Linked DNA regions of Homo sapiens. The protein of the gene in region 3 purifies or fractionates together with the protein of the main gene of each other region. This does not show direct contact. Each region holds a gene or a part of one and is shown on either strand. Other genes may lie near its edges.

What was found.
Region 1: the proteins of ZNF501 (region 3) and ARIH1 purify together in Homo sapiens (affinity purification with mass spectrometry; 3 studies listed by BioGRID and IntAct, with this or other methods). This does not show direct contact.
Region 2: the proteins of ZNF501 (region 3) and THUMPD3 purify together in Homo sapiens (affinity purification with mass spectrometry; 3 studies listed by BioGRID and IntAct, with this or other methods). This does not show direct contact.

The regions. Positions count from the first base shown.
Region 1 is NC_000015.10:72,477,305-72,484,332, reverse strand, and holds part of ARIH1 (E3 ubiquitin-protein ligase ARIH1), read right to left. Parts: intron 1-7,028. UniProt on the Homo sapiens protein: E3 ubiquitin-protein ligase, which catalyzes ubiquitination of target proteins together with ubiquitin-conjugating enzyme E2 UBE2L3.
Region 2 is NC_000003.12:9,373,029-9,380,056, reverse strand, and holds part of THUMPD3 (tRNA (guanine(6)-N(2))-methyltransferase THUMP3), read right to left. Parts: intron 5,542-7,028; coding exon 5,411-5,541; intron 2,239-5,410; coding exon 2,169-2,238; intron 1-2,168. UniProt on the Homo sapiens protein: Catalytic subunit of the THUMPD3-TRM112 methyltransferase complex, that specifically mediates the S-adenosyl-L-methionine-dependent N(2)-methylation of guanosine nucleotide at position 6 (m2G6) in tRNAs.
Region 3 is NC_000003.12:44,725,672-44,732,661, reverse strand, and holds the start of ZNF501 (zinc finger protein 501), read right to left. Parts: upstream 3,028-6,990; 5' UTR 2,647-3,027; intron 1,187-2,646; 5' UTR 1,102-1,186; intron 1-1,101. UniProt on the Homo sapiens protein: May be involved in transcriptional regulation. Essential for Golgi structural integrity.

The sequences.
Region 1 (7,028 bases), on a different chromosome or scaffold from region 3:
TAAAGAATTTACTTATGTAACCAAATACCACCTCTTCCCCAATAACCTAGGGAAATAAAATTTTTTGGAAAAAAGAATATGTGGGATTTTTGCATTATTTCTTGTAACTGCATGTGAATCTACAATTTTCTTTTCTTTTCTTCTTTTTTTTTTTTTTTTTTGATGGAGTTTCACTCTTGTTGCCCAGGCTGGAGTGCAATGGCATAATCTTGGCTCACTGCAACCTCTGTCTCCTGGGTTCAAGTGATTCTCCTGCCTCAGCCTCCCGAGTAGCTGGGATTACAGGCGCCCACCACCATGCCCGGCTAATTTTTGTATTTTTTTAGTAGAGACGGGGTTTCGCCATTTGGCCAGGCTGGTCTCGAACTCCTGACTTCAGGTGATCCGCCTGCCTCGGCCTCCCAAAGTGCTGGGATTACAGGCGTGAGCCACCATGCCCGGCTGTGAATCTACAATTTTCTATTTTAAAAACAGTAATGAAAAAAATCCCCAGGTGATTCCATTACGTAGCTAGAGTTAAAAAAAAAAAAAATCAGTAAACTGGAGAATCTCAAATTCCTACCAATTCTGAGACTACAAGCTATTTTAAACTTAAGCCACTGAAAGGTTATTAGGAATGTTTATCATTTACAGGTATAATGTTTTGCAAAGCCAAAAGTAATTAATTTACGGTTAATCCAAAATAAAAAATCCAAAACACTATGTTCTCCCAATAGCATACAAAAAGATTGGATAGAAAGGCATTATACAATAGCTGTAATTTACCTCTTAACAGAGAGAGACAGAGACAAACAGCCGGCCTCTAAGATAGCCCCCAAAGACCCCTGCCTCCTGGTCTTCACATCTTTGTATAATCCCCTCCGATTGAGTATGGGCTGGATTTGGTTATTCACTTACAACAAATAGAATATTGCAAAGTGATGCGACGTTACTTCTGAAATTAAGTTATAAAAACTTTGTGGCTTCCATCGTATGGGCCTTTTCTCTAAGATCCCTCACTCTGGAGGAAACAAGCTACTGTGTTGTCAGCCACTTTATGGAGAGGCCCACATGGCAAGGAACTGATATCTCTGGGCAACAACCAGCCAGTGAAAATCTGGCCTGGTCACAGCCAAATGAGTGAGCTCGGAAGGGGAAGCTTCCCCAGTCAAGCCTTGAGGACTGCTACCCAGGCCAGACACGGTGGCTCATGCCTGTAATCCCAGCACTTTAGGAGGCTAAGGCGGGCAGATCCCTTGAATTAAGGTGTTCAAGAGCAGCCTAGGCAACATGGCAAAACAAAAAAATACTGGTCTCTACCAAAAAACCCACAAAAACAAAAAAATAAGCTGGGGTGTGGTGGTGCACATCTATAGTCCCAACTACTCAGGAGGCTGAGGTAAGAGGATCACTTGGACTCAAGAGGTGAGGGTTGCAATGAGCCGAGATTATGCCATTGCACTCCAGCCTGGGCACCACAGCAAGCCTCTGTCTTTAAAAAAAAAAAAAAAAAAGAGAGAGAGAGAACTGCTACCAAGCCGTCACCTTGGTTGCAGCCTTGTAAGAGACCATAAGCCAGAGGCCCCCAGGTAAGCTGCATCCAGAATTGTGACTCACAGAAACTATGATATAACAGATCCTTGTTTTTTTAAGCCACTAAGTTTTGGGGTAACATAAGGCAAAAGATAACCAATCTACATAGTTACCACAGGTCAACCCCAAAAGAATCTAATGTGATGACTTCTGCTTACCTTTCATCACAGTATTTAATCTCCCAGGTTCTACATTATTATCCAGCATTTATAAGCTCCATTCTACTTTAGCTGATTTCACCATTACCCAAAAACTCTCCTCATTCTCACCTCATTCAGTTCCTTAGAATGACTTCCTCTTTTTTATCCACCCAAATCCTAGCCATCTTTGACAACACCTACAGAGGTCTCTTCCATGAGTATCTATTACTATCCACTTATTTAAATTACTCACTAACCTAACAGCTTTAACTCTAAGAGATTCTCAACTCCTTAAGAATAAGTCTTCTCATATTCCTTTAAACAGGACTTTATATCTATCCAGGACTTTATATCTCTTCCAGCATACTAATAAATTAGAAAACTCAACATTCTATATTAAAAAAATCTAGGACTGGAAGGGAAATCAAGAACTCCAATCTAGAATGTCAGATGTCACTAGTTTAGTTTGTCTATTTGAAAATACTGGCCGGGTGCAGTGGCTCATGCCTGTAATCCCAGCACTTTGGGAGGCCAAGTCGGGTGGATCACCTGAGGTCAGGAGTTCGAGATCAGCCTGGCCAACATGGTGAAACCCCGTCTCTACCAAAAATACAAAATTAGCCGGGCGTAGTGGTGGGCGCCTGTAATCCCAGCTACTCGGGAGGCTGAAGGAGGAGAATCGCTTGAACCCAGCAGGCGAAGGTTGCAGTGAGCCGAGATGGCGCCACTGCACCCCAGCCTGGGCAAGAGAGAAAAGACTCTGTCTCCAAAAAAGAAAAGAAAAGAAAAGAAAATACTGAGTAAAGACCACCTTAGCTGAAGGATAGCATAGCATGAAGGATAGCATCTACGATGACAAACATCTTCCAACCCTATGATTAGCCTAGTAAACGTTGCCTAGGTTCTGGAAATTTTCCCATTATTACCTTTTTTTTGAAGTAGAGTCTCCCTCTGTCACCCAGGCTAGAGTGCAGTGACACTATCTCAGCTCACTGCAACCTCCAATTCCCAGGTTCAAGCAATTCTCCTGCCTCAAGTCTCCCAAGTAGCTGGGATTACAGGCACAGGCCACCACGCCCAGCTAGTGTTTCACCATATTGGCCAGGCTGGTCTCAAACTCCTGACCTCAAGTGATCTGCCTGGCACAGTCCCCAAAGTGCTGGGATTACAGGTGTGAGCCACCGTGACTGGTCCCCTATTATTAGTTTCTTAAACAATTTATCTTCCCTCATTAACCCACCTCTGTAGTAATCTATCACTACACGTAACACATAGAGAAACACTGCTATTAAATTTCAACTACATCAGCAGTTCTCAAACTTTAGCTTGCATCACCATCACCTAGAAGGCTTGTTAAAACAGACAGCCAGACCCCATCCCCAGAGTTTGATTCATAGGACTACTGCCATAGCAATTCAACAAGTCAGTGTAATTTAAACTTACAGCTCAAGGAGATCAGCTGGGAAAATATAAAAGTCCAAAAGAAATAAATCTAAACTATATCAAACACTTTAATAACTTCAAAACACATGTGCCTGCACACATCATGCACAGGCTTGTACACCCTCTTCCTCCTCTCCCAATTAATGAACATAACCACAATATGCACACCTGAATTCAATTTCTTGGAAAAAATGAACATCTCCAATTAACTGAGGTTTTTAAAATGATGTTAAACGAATAAAACACTTAATGTAAAAAAGGACCAACCTAGTATTTCAACTCCCTCATTTTCAGTCCCAGATTAAAAACAAAACAAGGCCGGGCAAGGTGGCTCACTGTGATCCCAGAACTTTGGGAGGCCGAGGCGGGCAGATCACCTGAGGTCGGGAGTTTGAGACCAGCCTGACCAACATGGAGAAACCCCCATCTCTACTAAAAATACAAAATTAGCCAGGCGTGGTGGCATACGCCTGTAATCCTAGCTACTCAGGAGGCTGAGGCAGGAGAATCGCTTGAACCTGGGAGGCAGAGGTTGCAGTGAGCTGAGATCGCGTCATTGCACTCCAGCCTGGGCAACAAGAGAGAAACTCCATCTCAACAACAACAACAAAAAGTGTGGCTGGGCACCGTGGCTCATGCCTATAATCCCAACACTCTGGGAGGCCAAGGTAGGTCGATCATTTGAGGTCAGGAGTTCGAGACCAGCCTGGCCAACATGGTGAAACCTCATCTCTAATAAAATACAAAAAATAGCTGGGTGTGGTGGCGCGTGCCTGTAATCCCAGTTACTTGAGAGGCTGAAGCAGGAGAATCGCTTGAACCCTGGAAGTGGAGGTTGCAGTGAGCCAAGATCAGGCCACTGCACTCCAGCCTGGGTGACACAGTGAGACATGTATAAAAAAAAAAAAAAAAAATTTGAAGGTTCTGAGATATTAACTAGACAGAGTAAAAACCAGGGCTATAACTGACTCCCCAATCAGTAAACAATATGCTAGAATAGTACACTGTTGACCGGGCACGGTGGCTCATGCCTGTAATCCCAGCACTTTGGCAGGCCGAGGTGGGCGGATCACGAGGTCAGGAGATCCAGATCATCCTGGCTAACATGGTGAAACCCCATCTCTACTAAAAAATACAAAAAAATTAGCCAGGCATGGTAGCGGCTGCCTGTAGTCCCAGCTACTCGGGAGGCTGAGGCAGAAGAATGGCGTGAACCCAGGAGGCGGAGCTTGCGGTGAGCCGAGATCGCACCACCGCACTCCAGCCTGGGCAACAAAGCGAGACTCCGTCTCAAACGAAAAAAAAAAAAAGAATAGTACACTGTCTTCCTTAGTTTAGGCTTGCAACCTCAACTTGAGGTTCTTTAATTAAATCTCTTAATTAAATAAGTGAAATACAGCTTTCGAACCAACAGCCAACAGAAAATTTCTTCAGTAAGGCTTAGATATTTTTTTCTTTAAAATGAGTTATTTGGCTGGGCACGGTGGCTCACGCCTGTAATCCCAGCACTTTGGGAGGCCAAGGCAGGCGGATCACGAGGTCAAGAGGTTGAGACCATCTGACCAACATGGTGAAACCCAGTCTCTACTAAAAATACAAAAATTAGTTGGGTGTGGTGGCGCGCACCTGTAGTCCCAGCTTCTCAGGAGGCTGAGGCAGGAGAATCGCTTGAACCCAGGAGGCAGAGGTTGCACTGAGCCAAGATCACGCCACCACTGCTCTCCAGCCTGGCAACAGAGCAAGACTCCGTCTCCAAAAAAAAAAAAAGTTATTTAGCATAACAGATCTTATAAAAGCAAGATACCTATCCACTGTTTTTTATACCTCCTCTGACCACTCACATTCAATAGTCCCAGGTCCATATTCCTCTCGGCACACACTCTAAATATGGTACAGGTTGAGTATTCCTTATCCAAAATACTTGAGACCAGAAGTTTTTCAGATTTGGAATATTTAATTATACTTACAATCAACATCCCTAATCTGAAAATCCGAAATCCAAAATGCTGCAGTGAGCATTTCCTTTGAGCATCACAACGGTGCTCAAAAAGTTTTGGATTTCCAGGCCTACCATTTTGAGAGGCTGAGGTTCAAGGAGCGCTTGAGGCCAGGAGTTTGAGACTGGCCTGGGCAACAGAGCAAGACCCTGTGTCTCTACAAAAAAGAAAAAAAATTAGCTAGGAGTGGTGCCACACACCTATAGTCCTAGCTACTCAGGAGGCTGAGGCGGGAGAATCACTTTAGCTCAGGAAGTTGAGGTTGCAGTGAGCTATGATCTTGCCATTGCACTTCAGTCTGGGCAACAACACAAAGTGATTTCAGAGCATTTCTGATTTTTTGATTAGGTATACCCAATCTGTGCCCCTAAGAGCTGCTGCTCTTCTCACTCTACTCACCCTGCCTGAGTCAAAATCGTGACAGTGGATTAACTATCACTATTCCAGTGGTTTGGTTATCACTAGAAGGCTAAAATACAGAGATGCTAAGGTTTCACCTCAGACTTCATTAATGAGTAAGAATCTCTGGAAGTGGAGTTCAAGGACCTCCATATTCCCTATCCCTATATGCTCCTTAGGCAAGGAGCATATCCTCTGCTTAACATAATGCCTGGCATACTTAGAAAGCACAATCAACATTTGCTGAACACTGTTGTGGAAAAACAAAATGGCAAGTTTAAATACTCCCAACTGCAGAATTGAACAGGGTTCTTTTAATAAATTACCTAGCTACTTATATAGTTACATTAGAAAACTACTTTTTAGGCTGGGCGCGGTGGCTCAAGACTGTAATCCCAGCACTTTGGGAGGCCCAGCTGTGTGGATCACCTGGGTTCAGGAGTTCAAGACCAGCCTGGCCAACATGGTGAAACCCCCTCTCTACTAAAAAATACAAAAAGTAGCTGGGTGTGGTGGTGCACACCTGTAATCCCAGCTACTCGGGAGGCTCAGGCAGGAGAATTGCTTGAACCCAAGAGGCGGAGGTTGCAGTGAGCTGAGATCACGCCACTGCACTCCAACCTGGGCAGCAGAATGAAACTCTGTCTCAAAATAAACAAATAACAAAAAACACCCTGGCCAGGCATGGTGGCTCACACCTGTAATCCCAGCACTTTGGGAGGCCGAGAAGGGCAGATCACTTGAGGCCAGGAGTTCAGTACCAGCATGATGAACATGGGGAAACCCTGTAACACAAGAATTAGCTGGGCCTGGTGGCAGGTGCCTGTAATCCCAGATACTGGGGTAGGGGGGGAAGCTGAGGCAAGGGGAATCTCTTGAACCTGGGAGGGAGAGGTTGCAGTAAGCTGAGATCACGCGACTGCACTACAGCCTGGGTGACAGAGTGAGGCTGTCTCCAAACAAAACAAAATAAAAAACTCTGATTTTTTTTTTCCTTAAAAGCTGAAAAGGTAAGCTAGGTAGCCACAAAGCATTTAAACAAAAGACCAAATTAAATAAAGTTTAATTGTTTAATTTGGTCTTTTATTTAAATGTTAATTGGGAAATTATAGAAAGCCAGAAAACCAAGTTTTCTGAAAGAAAATAATGTTGACTTATTTGAAGACCAAACCTAACCTGCAAATATCCACAAATAACAGTATTTATGTTGTTGCCCAGAACTCCTCTCCCAGAAAAAGTAATCAAATTCCCAAGGAAATATTAAATTAATTTGGTTATCTTTTTACATTTCAAACTTTTTCACCTGCAAATGTATCTTACCTGATTTCACACTGAAAATTAGAACTGAGAACAGGGAATTTAAATGTTTAAGAGTTAACAGTAAGCTCTCTAATGCAAACTAAGTAAAATTCAGTGTTTATCAAACCAACATTAAAAACCTAGATAACTGCTATTTCCAACCTCTATTAATAGAAAG
Region 2 (7,028 bases), about 35 Mb from region 3:
GATTTGTGGTTGTGGGAGTTTACATAATCTGATATATTTGAAAATTGCAAAATAAAATGCTATTTCCGGCCGGGCATGGTGGCTCACACCTGAAATCCCAGCACTTTGGGAAGCTGAGGCAGGAGGATTTCTTGAGCCCAGGAGTTTGAGACCAGCCTGGGAACATGGTGAAAGCCCATCTCTACAAAAACACAAAAATCAGCTGGGTGTGATGGTGTGCACCTGAGTCTCAGCTACTCGAGAGGCTGAGGTGGGAGAATGGCTTAAGACAGGGAGGCAGAGGTTGCAGGGAGCTGAGATTACACCACTGCACTCCAGCCTGGCTGACAGAGCAAGACCCCAGGTCAAAAAAATAATAGTAAAATGCAATTTCCTTTGTATGATAGGCTTTTGAATGGTAACCACCATATCACTGGAAGGATTTTGTAATTATAAATAAAAAACCTGTCAGCAGAACATAAATACCAAGCTGTCACATGTCATTTGTGGAATGAGGTGACGTGACCCTAGGCCTGAACAATGTTCTATGCAGATTAACAGAAGGTTTCTGACACGAAAGCCGGGAAAGGTCTGCCTCTGCTTAGGGGTGAGTAGCAAACACCTTTGTGTTCCTTTGTGAACAGTAACATACTTCTCATCCATGAGTGCAGTGTTTCATAACTTTTTCTTTTGCCCAGACACTTGAGGGTGATAACATACCCTGTCTACAATCCTACGATGACATCAAACAAAAGGGAAGTTGAAGTATCCCAGAATTTTGGGTGGGTGGGGATGTAGAGGGGACCTAGAGTTTGAGGAAGGCTCTCAGTGATTCCGATTCCCAAATATTCTTTTTTTTTTTTCCTAAACCTATTTGGATTTTCAGCATTGGAAAGAATTGGGTTTTATAGCATAACACTTCTAAATTAAAAAAAAAAATTATTCTAGATCAAGTATTTTATACTTTGGTGAACAAATCTTTATATATACCTTGTCAATTTATTCATAATTTTATTCATTTTGATCATATATCGGCTTAGGTTTTTCTACATTGACATCTGCATGTCTACTCTTACATGGAAATGGCTCAAACTTCATGTTTTAATTTTTTTCGGCCTTTATTTTTACTCGGAGCTCTGTTGTGTATTTCTTGACATGCGGTGACCTTACCTGCTATTTCATACACATATCATGATTTCATACTAGAAAACAACACTCTGCTTTCTTCCCAGAATCCTTCTTGGCCACAAGAAGGACTGGGTTTTTACTGTGCAGTCTCTTTAAGCCACAGTAATTTCTCTAGCTTTCACGGAACACAGTCACATGTAGACTTCTATGATTTCAGTCTTGGATTTTAACTCCCAGAACAGATACCATTTTCTAATTACAGTTTGGATTATTTCTCCCCTTGTGGGCTTGCTTTGGACTTGCTCATCTGTCCAGTTTCTACCCAATCATATAATCTGCTGTGTCTCCCTGCAGTTTATTCAAATTGGCTGTCAGTATACTATATGGAAGAACTACTATGTTTCACACAAACTTCAGTGATTTTACTGGGAGCTCCCTCTTCTAAATTCTTTAAAAACATATAGATGATACTGATTATTCAAGGGGAATCTACTGTGAAATATTCTCCATTTAGAAAATGCCTTTCCATTTCTTGCTTTGCTTTACACAGTTTTTATGAGTCCTCTCAATATCATGGTAATTTTGAAAACTAAGAGCATTTGGTATTAAGCTTGTTAGACTTCCTAAAAAATCCAAGTAATGTTCATAAGTTTCCCCTTTTTACAACTATACTTATTCCCTCTAGGAACTTAAGTGGATTACAGAGAAGAAAATTGCCTTCCTCCAGTTTATGCTTATGCCTTCAATTATCTTTTCCCATTCAAGTCTACCAGCTTGTCTGTTACACAAAGAGGACTCATCGGCAGTTTGTAATTCTCAGCTTCCTCTGTAATCTAGTGAATAGATGTCACTAACAATGTATCTAGGCCAGTGGCACATGGCTCTTTGAAATAAGTAGTTACATTCTTTACAAAAAAGTTCCACTTTCTATTGTTAATTGTTTTAAAACTCTTGGGTCCACTGATCCAACCATGGAGATTTCATTATGTCTAATTTGCCCATTAGGTCTAGAATATTCTGGATGTATCACTCTTATCTAAAAGCTAAAGAAATATGATTACCTCTATTGGTATTGCCCCAGTTCCACACATTGGATCGACTATTATATCATAAGGTAGAGGATCACAGAGCCTAGAGAAAAGAAAACAGCCTATGTGAAGACTCACTCAAAAGCTGAGGCTTCTATACTGATGATTCCTGAAGCTTTAAGATTGAGGACCTACCACACTAGCCCGAAGGAACACCAATCTACACATATTTTAGAAATCAATTTGTGGCCGCGCACGGTGACTCACGCCTGTAATCCCAGCACTTTGGGAGGCTGAGATGGGTGGATCGCTTGAGGTCAGGAATTCAAGACCAGCCTGGCCAACATGGCGAAACCCCGTCTCCACTAAAAATACAAAAAATTAGCTGGGCGTGGTGGTGGGTGCCTGTAATCCCAGCTAGTACAAAGGCTGAGACTCGAGAATTGCTTGAACCCAGAAGGCGGGGATTGCAGTGAGCCAAGATCATGTAAGATGCAGCCTGGGTGACAGAGCAAGACTCCGTCTCAAAAATAAATAAATAAATAAATAAAATCAATTTATAATGATATGTTGACTGTATATTCCATTACTTGGGGAAAAAAAATCCTTATAACTAAATCTCCTTTGACTATCTTCCAAAATCCCATTTCACTCTCAGATGAAATTTAGTTTGCAGACATCTTAAAGTACACATGTGTACACACACACACACACACACGCTCATGCATACTTTTTGACAACAGTGTTGTTTTCAACAGAAACCTGTATTACATTAAAAAGACTCAAAAATGTCTCAAGTCAAACATGCATCAATATAAGGTTACTGGCAATGAGACATTCAGTATTCCTTTCCTTCTGAATTTAAAGCTAATCTTGATATAAAAAAATTGCTCTGTGGGACTAGGTAATAAAAAAAGGAAAAAAAAATGCTTTACTTTGAGCACTTAGTATTTCCTGGGCATGGACTTAAGCTCTTTCCATGCATTATCTCACAGAATCCTCAGTAAGGACCCTGTTAGATAATTATCATTATTCTCATTTTAAAGGTAAGCTGATGCAAGGAAACATGAAGTTACCTGCCCAGGGACACAAAACTAGTAGGTAACAGATTCAAGATTAGAGGCATTACTGTTAGTGGCTTAACTGTTATCCTCTTTATGAAGCATCCCACCCTGAAACAGGTCAGTAGGTTTCTTCCCTTCTCTTGTTCTTCTAATCTTTTCATGTGCTGGTGTGGGACTTATCGCATGTATGATAACTATTTATCTCCCTCACAAGACAGATTCTTGGGGGTTAATAGTGGGTTCTTATTGTAACATTGGTCCTGCTCTATCTCCTTGCTCCTACTCCTCAACACATGGCAATAGAATCCTTGGCAACCCTCTTGAGGGGGTAAGCACCCTGTACTCCAAGCCATTCCTGATGGTCAGGGGTGAATATCTGACCAAAACAATGTCCATCAGATCCTCTCTTCCAGGAATTTGGAACAAAGAGCTAAAAGCCCTAGGCAGTGTGGGTTGGTCGTTTGGAATTGGAAATACATAAATTTAGATGAGAAAGCATGTAGATGAGAAGAGACAAGAGTCCACAGGCTCTAAGGGGAGATAAAAATGGCTGCCTACATTTCTGGTGGTTTTCCAAGATGTGGTTCCTACCCTTCTTGAGAACCAACATTCAGTTTTTCTGTAGAATCCCCAAGATTTCTCTTTATCTTTCCAATAAACCCCTCTCTGGCACAATTATCACTTTTTTATCCTAAACTTGATTACTTAGGTTTTAAATATTTGCACCCAAAATAACACCCTCTCTGTATCCCTGGTTTCTACCATATGCCTGGCAGTAGATAATGCATATTTGTTAAATTAATGAAGACTAGAAGATTTTCCTTTATCAAATGGGCCCAATTTTCTATTATCGTCATTGAATTAATATGTTAGGAAGATAAAAGATTGGAAGAGAAGGAATACAGTCGTGTACTGCATGACAATCTTCCAATCAATGGTGGACCAAATATATGAATGCAGTAATTATAATACCATATTTTGCCCTATCCTTTCTATGTTTAGATACACAAATACCACTGCGTTACAACTGACTACAATATTCAGTACAATAACATGCTGTACAGGTTTGTAGCCTAGGAGCAATAGGAGATACCACATAGCCCAGGTGTGTAGTAGGCTACACCATCTAGATTTGTGTAGGTACACTCCATGAGGTTCGCACAATGATGAAATTGCGTGATGACACATTTTTCAGAATGTATCCCTGTCATTAAGTGATGCATGACTGGACTTAACTACCAGGACATACCAGGCACTGTATATAATAGGTATTTTGCATATGCTTCAGCATTTAATCCTCACTAATAATCCTTTAAGTCTCACATCAAATCCATTTTGCCATCTGGAAAACAGAAGCTTTAGAGAAAATAAACATTTTCAAGTGGTGGAAAGAAGCACCCAATAAAAGAGAGAAGGGCAAAGGAGAAGGAAAGATAGGTCGTGTACTCTGAAAAGCAAAAAATTCTAGGATGATTCCTGAGTTGCTGTGAGTATAAAGCTTAAAAATATAAGTAAAAGCTCTTTCTGTTCATTTACACGTTATACACATAAAAATCTCTGCTTTCATCTTTTTCACTGCACAGAAATGAAACAGCAAAATTTACTCTTATCTCCCAACACACATATCCTTGCTAAACAGAAATGTGGTAACCTCATTCAAGAGGCAGGTGAAAACTATTACTCTCATTTTAAAATCAAGAAAACCGGGCGCGGTGGCTTACACCTGTAATCCCAGCACTTTGGGAGGCCGAGGCGGGTGGATCACCTGAGGTCAGGTATTTGAGACCAGCCTCGCCAACATAGTGAAATGTCGTCTCTATTAAAAAAATACAAAAATTATCTGGGCGTGGTGGCAGGCACCTGTAATCCCAGCTATTCGGCTGAGACAGGAGAATCGCTTGAACCCGGGAGGCAGAGGTTACAGTGAGCTGAGATCTCGCCACTGCAGTCCAGTCTGGGCGACAGAGTGAGACTTTGTCTCAAAAAAAGAAATAAAGAAAACTGAGCCACCTATTAAGCAGTATTTTCAGATCACAAGGAGTCAATATTGGATAGAAGGGAAAGAAATAGATCATTAGCTTTCCATTCTATTCTTTATCCACTCTATTCCAACACAGTACCTCAAACACACATACACACAAATCAGTATTTTGAAGGGAACATTCAAACCAAGGTGCCACTTTAAGCTGGATGGCAAACTCATTTTCTTACCTGAGCATCCCATAGGCAAGAGTTGATCTAAGAGTTGTAGGTCCAAAATGTGTTATATTTCTTCGGTGGAGACTCTCTTCAGTCAATGCAATGCCCACAATGACTTCATTATCATGGATGTTCAAAAGAACCTATAGCAAAGTGGAACAAGACAAAATAGTTTTAGGATTGTTCAAACTGCGCTTAGTAATAAGACTTTTCTGACCTGGGCCGGTTCACCCCTCCTTAGGCAACCTGTTGGTCCCCTACTCCTGGGAGGTCACCATATTGATGCCAAACTTAGTGCAGACACCTGATTGGCATAGCGCACCACAGCCCAGAACTGTCTAAAAAGTTAAGACATTTAAAAAATACATATTAAAAAACCTCTAAGCCTTCAAAATATGTTTGTGTTATAAAAATTGGGGTGAAATCTGGTTGTAGCCAATAAACATAGTGAATTAAAAGAAAATAATAGATATTAAAATGAACGAAAAAAACTATATACTATATGATTTCATTTATATGAAGTTCAAAAATTGGCAAAACGAATTTTTGGTGGTAGCAGTCAGATTAGTGATTGCCTTGAGTGGGTACTGACTGGGAAAGGGCAAGGGGAGCCCGAGGTACTGGAAATAGTTTGTATCTCTATCTGGATGCTGTTTACACATCGTGTATATAAGTAAAAACTTACTGAAAACTTAAGATTTGTGTACTTAAGGGGTGCAAAGTGTATCTCAACAAAAAAGTTTTAAAAATTGGTAAAGTCTCAAATAAAAAGTCTTATTACACTGAGTGCAGTGGCACAGGCCCACAGTCCCAGCTACTCGGGAGGCTGAGGTGGGAGGACAGCCTGAGCCTGGGAGGTCAAGGCTTTAGTGAGCCATGATTGCACCACTGCACTCCAGTCTGGGTGATACAGCGAGACCCTGTCTCAAAAGTGAACTAAACTAAACCAAAATGTTCCCCAATCTTTCACTGAAAGACTTCCTGAGCTTAACCACAGCAGAAGCACAGCTGATACTCATACAGCACTTCCTAATGCAAAGCACTATTCTACACATTTTACATACATGGCCTCATCTCATATTCACATCCCCTAAGCTAGGTATTATTCCCTTTATAAATGAGGATACTGAGGCACAAAGACAGCTCCTCAGGAATTCCCTTTTTGAGACAGGGTCTCACTCTGTCGCCCAGGATTGAGTGCAGTGGCATGATCACAGATCACTGTGGCCTGGACTTCCTGGGCTCAAGCAATCTCTTACTTCAGCCTCCCAAGTACCTGGGACTATAGGTGTCTGTCATCATACTCAGCTAATTTTTTTTTTATTTTTTGTAGAGACAGGGTCTCCCTATGTCGCCTAGGCTGGTCTAGAACTCCTGGCCTGAAACAATCCTCCAATCTTGACCTCCCAAAGTGCTGGGATTACAGGTGTGTGTCACCACACCCAGCCTCCTCTGGGATTTAAACCAATGCAGCACGGCTCCAGAAACTCCTCTGAATCACCTTGCTAACTTTTAGACATCACTGTTCTGGTTAACCTATTCATTTTATTTTTTAAAATATTTATTTTATTTTTAGTGGAGACAGGGTCTCACTATTTTGCCCAGGCTGGTCTCAAATTCTTGGGCTCAA
Region 3 (6,990 bases):
ACTAAAAAATGTGTCTTAGAGATCACTTCATGTTGGTACATATGGATCTATTGGGGCTGAGAGTCAAATGATACACACTGCTATATCTGTACAAATTGTTCACGACTACCTGCTTGGGCAATGCCTGTACCATACTGTTTGTTAAATATGTGGACTATCTTACCTAAACCTATCTTTATCTGATGTATTAACTTACAACATGGATATGCTATATACAAAAACAAACTCCAGTTGGTTTAAGCAACCAGATGTAAAACCAAAACTCTAAGCACATTTTTAATTCCTTTACTCTCATTTTTCCAAAATAAAAAGGTTTTTTTCTTATCATACAAAGAATGCATGCTCATTCTATTAAATGGTCAGCTACTCCGAAGAGGAAATCACTTGAAACCCAGCCACAGAAAATAATAGTATTTTAATGGACCTTCTTCTAGGTATCTCTTGATGCATATAAACATAAATACGTACATAAGTGTACATATATTATGCATACATATTAAACTAATCCAAATTCTTCAGGACACAGTCATATTCTCTTCACAGAGTTCCCATAACCTAAGAATACAATTTACCCAGAATTATTTTACTGAGTTTGACAGACACCCAGGCTCCATGTTGCCTTTTGATTGCCAGTGACAATGTCAGCTGCAATAACTTAAGCTCTTGTTCTAAACATGGCCAGAAGCCCATTCCATATTCTCTGAGGAAATACCTAATCACATTTGCAATGGGTTTTCCAATAATTTACTACCCATATTCCTTGATCCAACCACTACACCATTAAGGCATCATACTGAGCAGTTCAATAAGTGGTTTAAAGATGTGCTACCAGATGACTGTAGAGTCTTCAGTTCAGGTACTCTGATAAGAACTTAGTGCACTCTAGGACCTGTCCCATAACCAATTATTCCATAGCCGTTTTCACAGTGGGCCACCCTCACTGATTTGAGTAAAATGGTATCCATTTCTGTGTGGTCCTGCATTTTCTGCTGGGTCCACATTTAGTGGACATTGGTGGGTCCCACCATAGGTCTGCCATCACTTCTGATGGTAGTCTCACAACCACCACCATCCTGGGCTCTCTAGTTAGAGTTAACTTACCAAGAGACAGGTTGTTAGGAGCACAAGCAATACTGGCTTTTCTCCTGGGGGCTCTTCTCTTGAGGAAAGGCAGGAATTTGAGGCACTGAGGGAGGAAAAAGAGCCACTCATAAATTGCCAGCCTACTTCCTACACCTTCTAGATTCAGGGTAACTCAAGAACATCCCATCTCTAACCAAATGACCATTTTAAGTTCAAATGAAAGAATATCGTTATTATCCTAGAGGAGTATCTCCAGTGACAAAAATTAGTGAGTTGGCAGACTTCAGAGAGATGTGACAATGTACAAAGAGGGCAGGTCCTTCCTAGGACTAAGCATCTGGGCGTAAAAATTTCTTTATACGACATCAGGTTGGAGCCCAATGGCTCCCCTAAGTCTACTGGAAAAGCCATTGATTTCAAAAGTCAAATGCTGCAGGGCTACAATAGAGGGCAGTAGGACCAGTAATGGACTCAGTCAAGAGGTGTGGATTCTAGTCTCAGCTCTGCCACCAATTTGTTCAATGACCTAACACAGGTCACTCAGTCTCATCCATTTCTTATTTGTTAAATGAAATTGAAAAGCTAGATAATATTTAAAGCTTCTTGTAATATCAACATTCTACAAAGCTTTGATTCTATATACAGATGGGAAAAGAGCAAAAACCTCAAATCAAGCCCTTCCAGTCCATCTTTGATTGAATCTGTTTATTCATTTATTTGAAAAGTACTAAATGAGCTAGCCGTGAGGTGAATGGGTCTTGTTAAGAACGGGCTGAATCAACAGCAGGGAAACTTCCTGTCAGTTATCCTCCTACAATTAGAATTGGGGGAATTTCTCGAAAATAACAAGAGGATTGCCTTTGTGTAAGGAGTATCTGCTGTAAGATGTTAAGGACTCTTCATAAGGGAAAGGTTTCAAGAACCCTCCTAATGCAAAGAACACTGTATTCAAAGGCAGGAACCTGGTTTCCTGTCTAATACATCCCAATCCACTAGCATCTCTTAACTGACACTGAACAAACTGTTTAATTATTTTCAAACGTCTCTTTTATTTCCTCATTTGGTCAAATAAGCCAGCAATTATTTTCAAGCTTGCAGTCAACCTTTAATATTTAGCTCAAATGTGAAACTTCACACCTCTTCCTTGTGGGAAAATTTTGACTTTTCCAAGGCCCTTCCTCGTCTACATTCTCAAAGAATTTTACAAGTTTCTACTGTAGGACTTTCTAGTCTGATTACATTCTGTCTTCCACCAGCAAACTTACAAGTATGGCATGGGCTCCAGGACTAGGACTTTTGAACAAGTTACCTAACCTTTTTTTGCTCCAGTTTTTTCAACTGTTAAATGGAGACGATACCAGTAACTACTTTATAGGGTTGTCGTAATGAATAAGTGGGTTACTACATGGCAACTACTTAGAAGAATGCCAGCTGGTAAGCATTCAATAAATAGTGCCTGCTGTTAAAGTATTGAGTCTACATGTCTTCATACGGTACCTATTTTGTTGTTGTTAGAGAAGAATAAATAATGAAGGGAAGGCACTAATTCTTGCATATACTTACTTCAACCCGCACAACTTTGGGAAACGGCAAGGCAGGAAACAGTATTTACTTCTGGAAATCAGAAAACTAAAGTGCCCAGAAGTTCACTGACATGCTTAAGTATGTATAAATCGAACCCAGGTCCTCCGACTCCCAGCCTAGGGCTCTCGAACAGCCTCTCCTTTCTTCATGGCAAGTTTGCCCTAGGCCTCGGGCCTCCGCTCCACAGGCCCTCCAGGAAGAAAAACGCCCTGCTTCCCGAGGGAGGAGCTGGAATCGACCCGCGGCAGCCGGGCACAGCAGAAACCGCTCACCATGCGCTTCCCGCGGCGCTCCCCGCGGCGCTCCCCTCTCGCACCTTGCAACACTCAGGTCCCTGGGTGCTGCCCTGCGGAAAGGAGTAAGTCCCGGACGCGCCCAGCCGGCGTGACGTCAGCAGTCCGCGCCTCGGCTAATAACCACTACCGTCTCCTCTCTAGGAAGGTGGGAGCGGCTTCCGCTCGGTGGTTCCTTCCCGCACGCAGCTACGGGTTTCGGTGCTGCGCCGGTTAAGCCGGCACCAGAAACAACCTGCGACCCCACCTGGCGTGCGTCTTCCAGCACAGGGAAACGGGATGGAAGTCAGAAGGGTCGACCACAAGGAGCTCTTACTGTGCATCAGTTCATCCTGCAAGTCCGCCACATTTAGCTTCCTATGTTACTGTCCTTTGGGGATTCTCAAGGCTTTTCACAAAACTGGCTTCCACCTTCCTCACACACATCCTCATCTGGAAGAAAACTGACCTCTTCACAGAAACCCCTGACACCTTACTGACCCAGGATCTTTGTTCAGGTGGCCAAAAGAAAAAGTTCTGCAGGCCAGGCGCGGTGGCTCACTCCTGTAATCCCAGCACTTTGGGAGGCCGAGGCGGGCGGATCACCTGAGGTCAGGAGTTCAAGACCAGCCTGCCCAACATGGAGAAACCCTGTCTCTACTAAAAATACAAAAATCAGCCGGGTGTGCTGGTGGGCGCCTGTAATTCCAGCTACTCCGGAGGCTGAGGCGCGAGAATCACTTGAACCTGGGAGGGGGAGGTTGCAGTGAGCAGAGACTGAGCCACTGCACTCCAGCTTGGGTGATAGAGTGAGACTCTGTCTCAAAAACAAAACAAAACAAATCAAACACTGCTTTGGGCTCAAATCCCTGATTCTCAGTGTATGAACTTTGCAACTTTACCTCTCTGTGCCTGCTTCCTCACTTACCAGGTATAATAATGGTACCACAGGGTTGTTGTGAGGATTAAGTGAGGTTAATACGTGTGAATTACTAAGAACATCTAGTATTTTTTAAATCTTCAGTAAATGTTAGGACTATTGTCTGTGTCTCAAATCCCAGCTCCAGTACCTATTGTTCTGCCCTGACTTCACTGACCTTTCAGGGCCTCAAGGTAGCACACCCATCCCTTTCTACAAAACTTCAGATCTTGCTGGCTCTAACTCAGGAAATATTTGCACACATGGGCTCATCTTGACAGGTAAAGTCCAGAGATAAAGGCATGAGTGGAGAGTACCTTATTCACTTCCAAGCATTCCTACTGATCTGCAATCTCAGGACAATAGGGCTGTGTGCACACCATCATATCCCTAGTGTGCAGCATATAGAAGTGAACACTTGCTGTATAAATTAATGAGATGCAGCAGAGAAATTATCCATTCCAGGCCAGGCATGGTGGCTCACACCTGTAATCCCAGCACTTTGGGAGGCCATGGGGGGCGGATCACGAGGTCAGGAGTTTGAGACCAGCCTGACCAACATGGCGAAACCCCGTCTCTACTAAAGATACAAAAATTAGCCGGGCGTGGTGGTGTGCCCCTGTAATCCCAGCTACTCAGGAGGGTGAGGCAGGAGAATCACTTGAACCTGGGAGGCGGACTTGCAGTGAGCCGAGATCATGCCACTGCACTCCAGCCTGGGTGACAGAGCCAGACTCCATCTTAAAAAAAAAAAAAAATATCCATTCCAATCTTCAGATTGGCTGTTTTCCCAAAATGGAGTCCCTTTTGGACACAAATCAGGAATGCTGGTGCCACAGACTGAGGCCATCGCTATCTTTGGCTAAAAAGTGACCCTTTGTAAAATTGTCAGTTGACATGCCATGTAACAATAATGTTAAGTTTCCCTCTCCAGGTGTCACATTCTCAGCACTTCTTTGGAATCAGATAGCAAGTTCTTCCCTCCAGCCCTAACATCTCACAGGCCAGAGACCCTAGGTCTAATTATTCATTCCCCAAACATTAGGCTTCAAAGAGTCTCCAAATCAGCAGGGTGTAGTGTGTGGAGGACATTAAGTCTGGAGGGAGGCACCTGAGGTTACTAGAAACCGTAATCTGGAGTTTAATAGCAGTTTGGGCTGAGCTTCTTTCAATGAGGTGGAAAACGGATGGTAGGGATGGACACCAAAAACGTTCCAAAACACTAAAATAACCTTAGCCCTGATGTGGCCACTGGATAAATGAAACTAATGCCACATATCGTCAAGATTAGGTTTCTACCTTATGTAGAAAGTAGGGGTCAAAAGGTATCATCAACTTACTTGTCACCCTCACACTCAGGAAAGTCTGAGATTTTGAGAACAAAAAGCTTCTCAATCTTATACAAGTGAGCTCCTCACATCCTCAGGATAAGGAAAAGATTGGAGCACTAAGTGGTCAATTCTAGGCTGGATGCAGTGGCTCAGGCCTGTAAGGGAGTCCGAGTTAGGAGGATCATCTGAGGGCAGGAGTTAGAGATGAGCCTGGGTAACATAGCAAGAATCTGTCTGTACCAAAAAATAATATTAAAAAACTTTTTTTTGAGACAGACTCTCACTCTGTCACCCAGGCTGGAGTGCAGTGGCATGATCTTGGCTCACTGCAACCTCTGCCTCCTGGGTTCAAGCAATTCTCCTGCCTCAGTCTCCTTAGTAGCTGGGATTACAGGCACGCGCCACCATGCCTGGCTAATTTTCATATTTTTAGTAGAGACGGGGTTTCACCATGTTGGTCAGGCTGGTCTCAAACTCCTGACCTTGTGATCCGCCTGCCTTGGCCTCCCAAAGTGCTGGGATTACAGGCGTGAGCCACCGCACCCGGCCAGAGAATACTTTTTAAAAATTAGCCAGGCATGGTAGCTCACGCCTGTAGTCCCAACTGCTTGGGAGGCTGAGGTGAGAGAATCGCTTGAGCCTGGGAGGTCTAGGCTACAGTGAGCTAGGATCACGCTACTGCACTCCAGCCTGGGCAACAGACCGAAACCATCTCAGAAACAAAAAAAAGTAGTCAGTTCTATAAAAAATAAAGAGGCATATGGAATAGAGGTATGACCAATACAGGGAAAAGTAAATGAAATGCAAGGACACTGCAGTTTAAACCTCATCTGACACTGGTTGTGTGGTCTTGAGCAACCCCAACATCTTTTCTCTTTTGTTCTGAGGATCTGACGTGGCTCCATCTGTGTCCTTCTAAAGTCATGAATTAAATTTCAGTGCACAATAAGCAAGACACTCAAATTCTTTATCATCCCAGGGCCCAAAATCTCAGGAAGTGCTTCCACTTTGGTACTTTTTTTTTTTTTTTTTTTTTTTTTTTTTTTTTTTTTAAGAGAGAGGGTCTCACTCTCTGATACGCAGGCTAGAGTGCAGTGGCATGATGCTAGCTCACTGCAGCTCCCAACACCTGGGCTCAAGCGATCCTTCCACCTCAGGCTCAGCATCCAGAATAGCTAGGACTACAGGCATGCACCACCATACCTGGTTTATTTATTTATTTATTTATTTATTTATTTATTTTTTTTAGACAAGGTCTTGTTATGTTCCACAGGATGCTCTTGAACTCCTGGCCTGAATCAATCCTCCCACCTCAGACTCCTGAGTAGTTGGGATTACAGGTGCAAGCCACCATGCCTGGCCCAGTTTGGGATTTGTAAACTGCAAATGCCCTCCTGCTAGGCCAGCATTACTCTTCAGTTCCTGCTATTTCATAGGTATTCCAGTTGACACAGGTGTGTTTCTGCAGTTGCATGCATTTTCCTCCTGTTGACCCTGACATCAATATAATTGAAAGCGTTTAGTTAAATTGTGATAGGACTTTTAAATCTCTAATTGAAAAATATTGTTTCTTATGGGATCTTCTGTTTAATACAATCTTAGGGAAAGTTTCAGAACTGTTGCTCCTGGCAGACACTTCGTGGACACGCATACTCACCATGCCTCCTTCCTGCTGACAACTGGGGACTTAAGTCACAACCTGCAGACTAGCACAGAGAAATGTCTGACTCTTCAGTTGAGTTCAACAAATGCTTATTGAGCACCTCCTAAGTACCAGGCACTGTTGATACAAAGGTAAAGA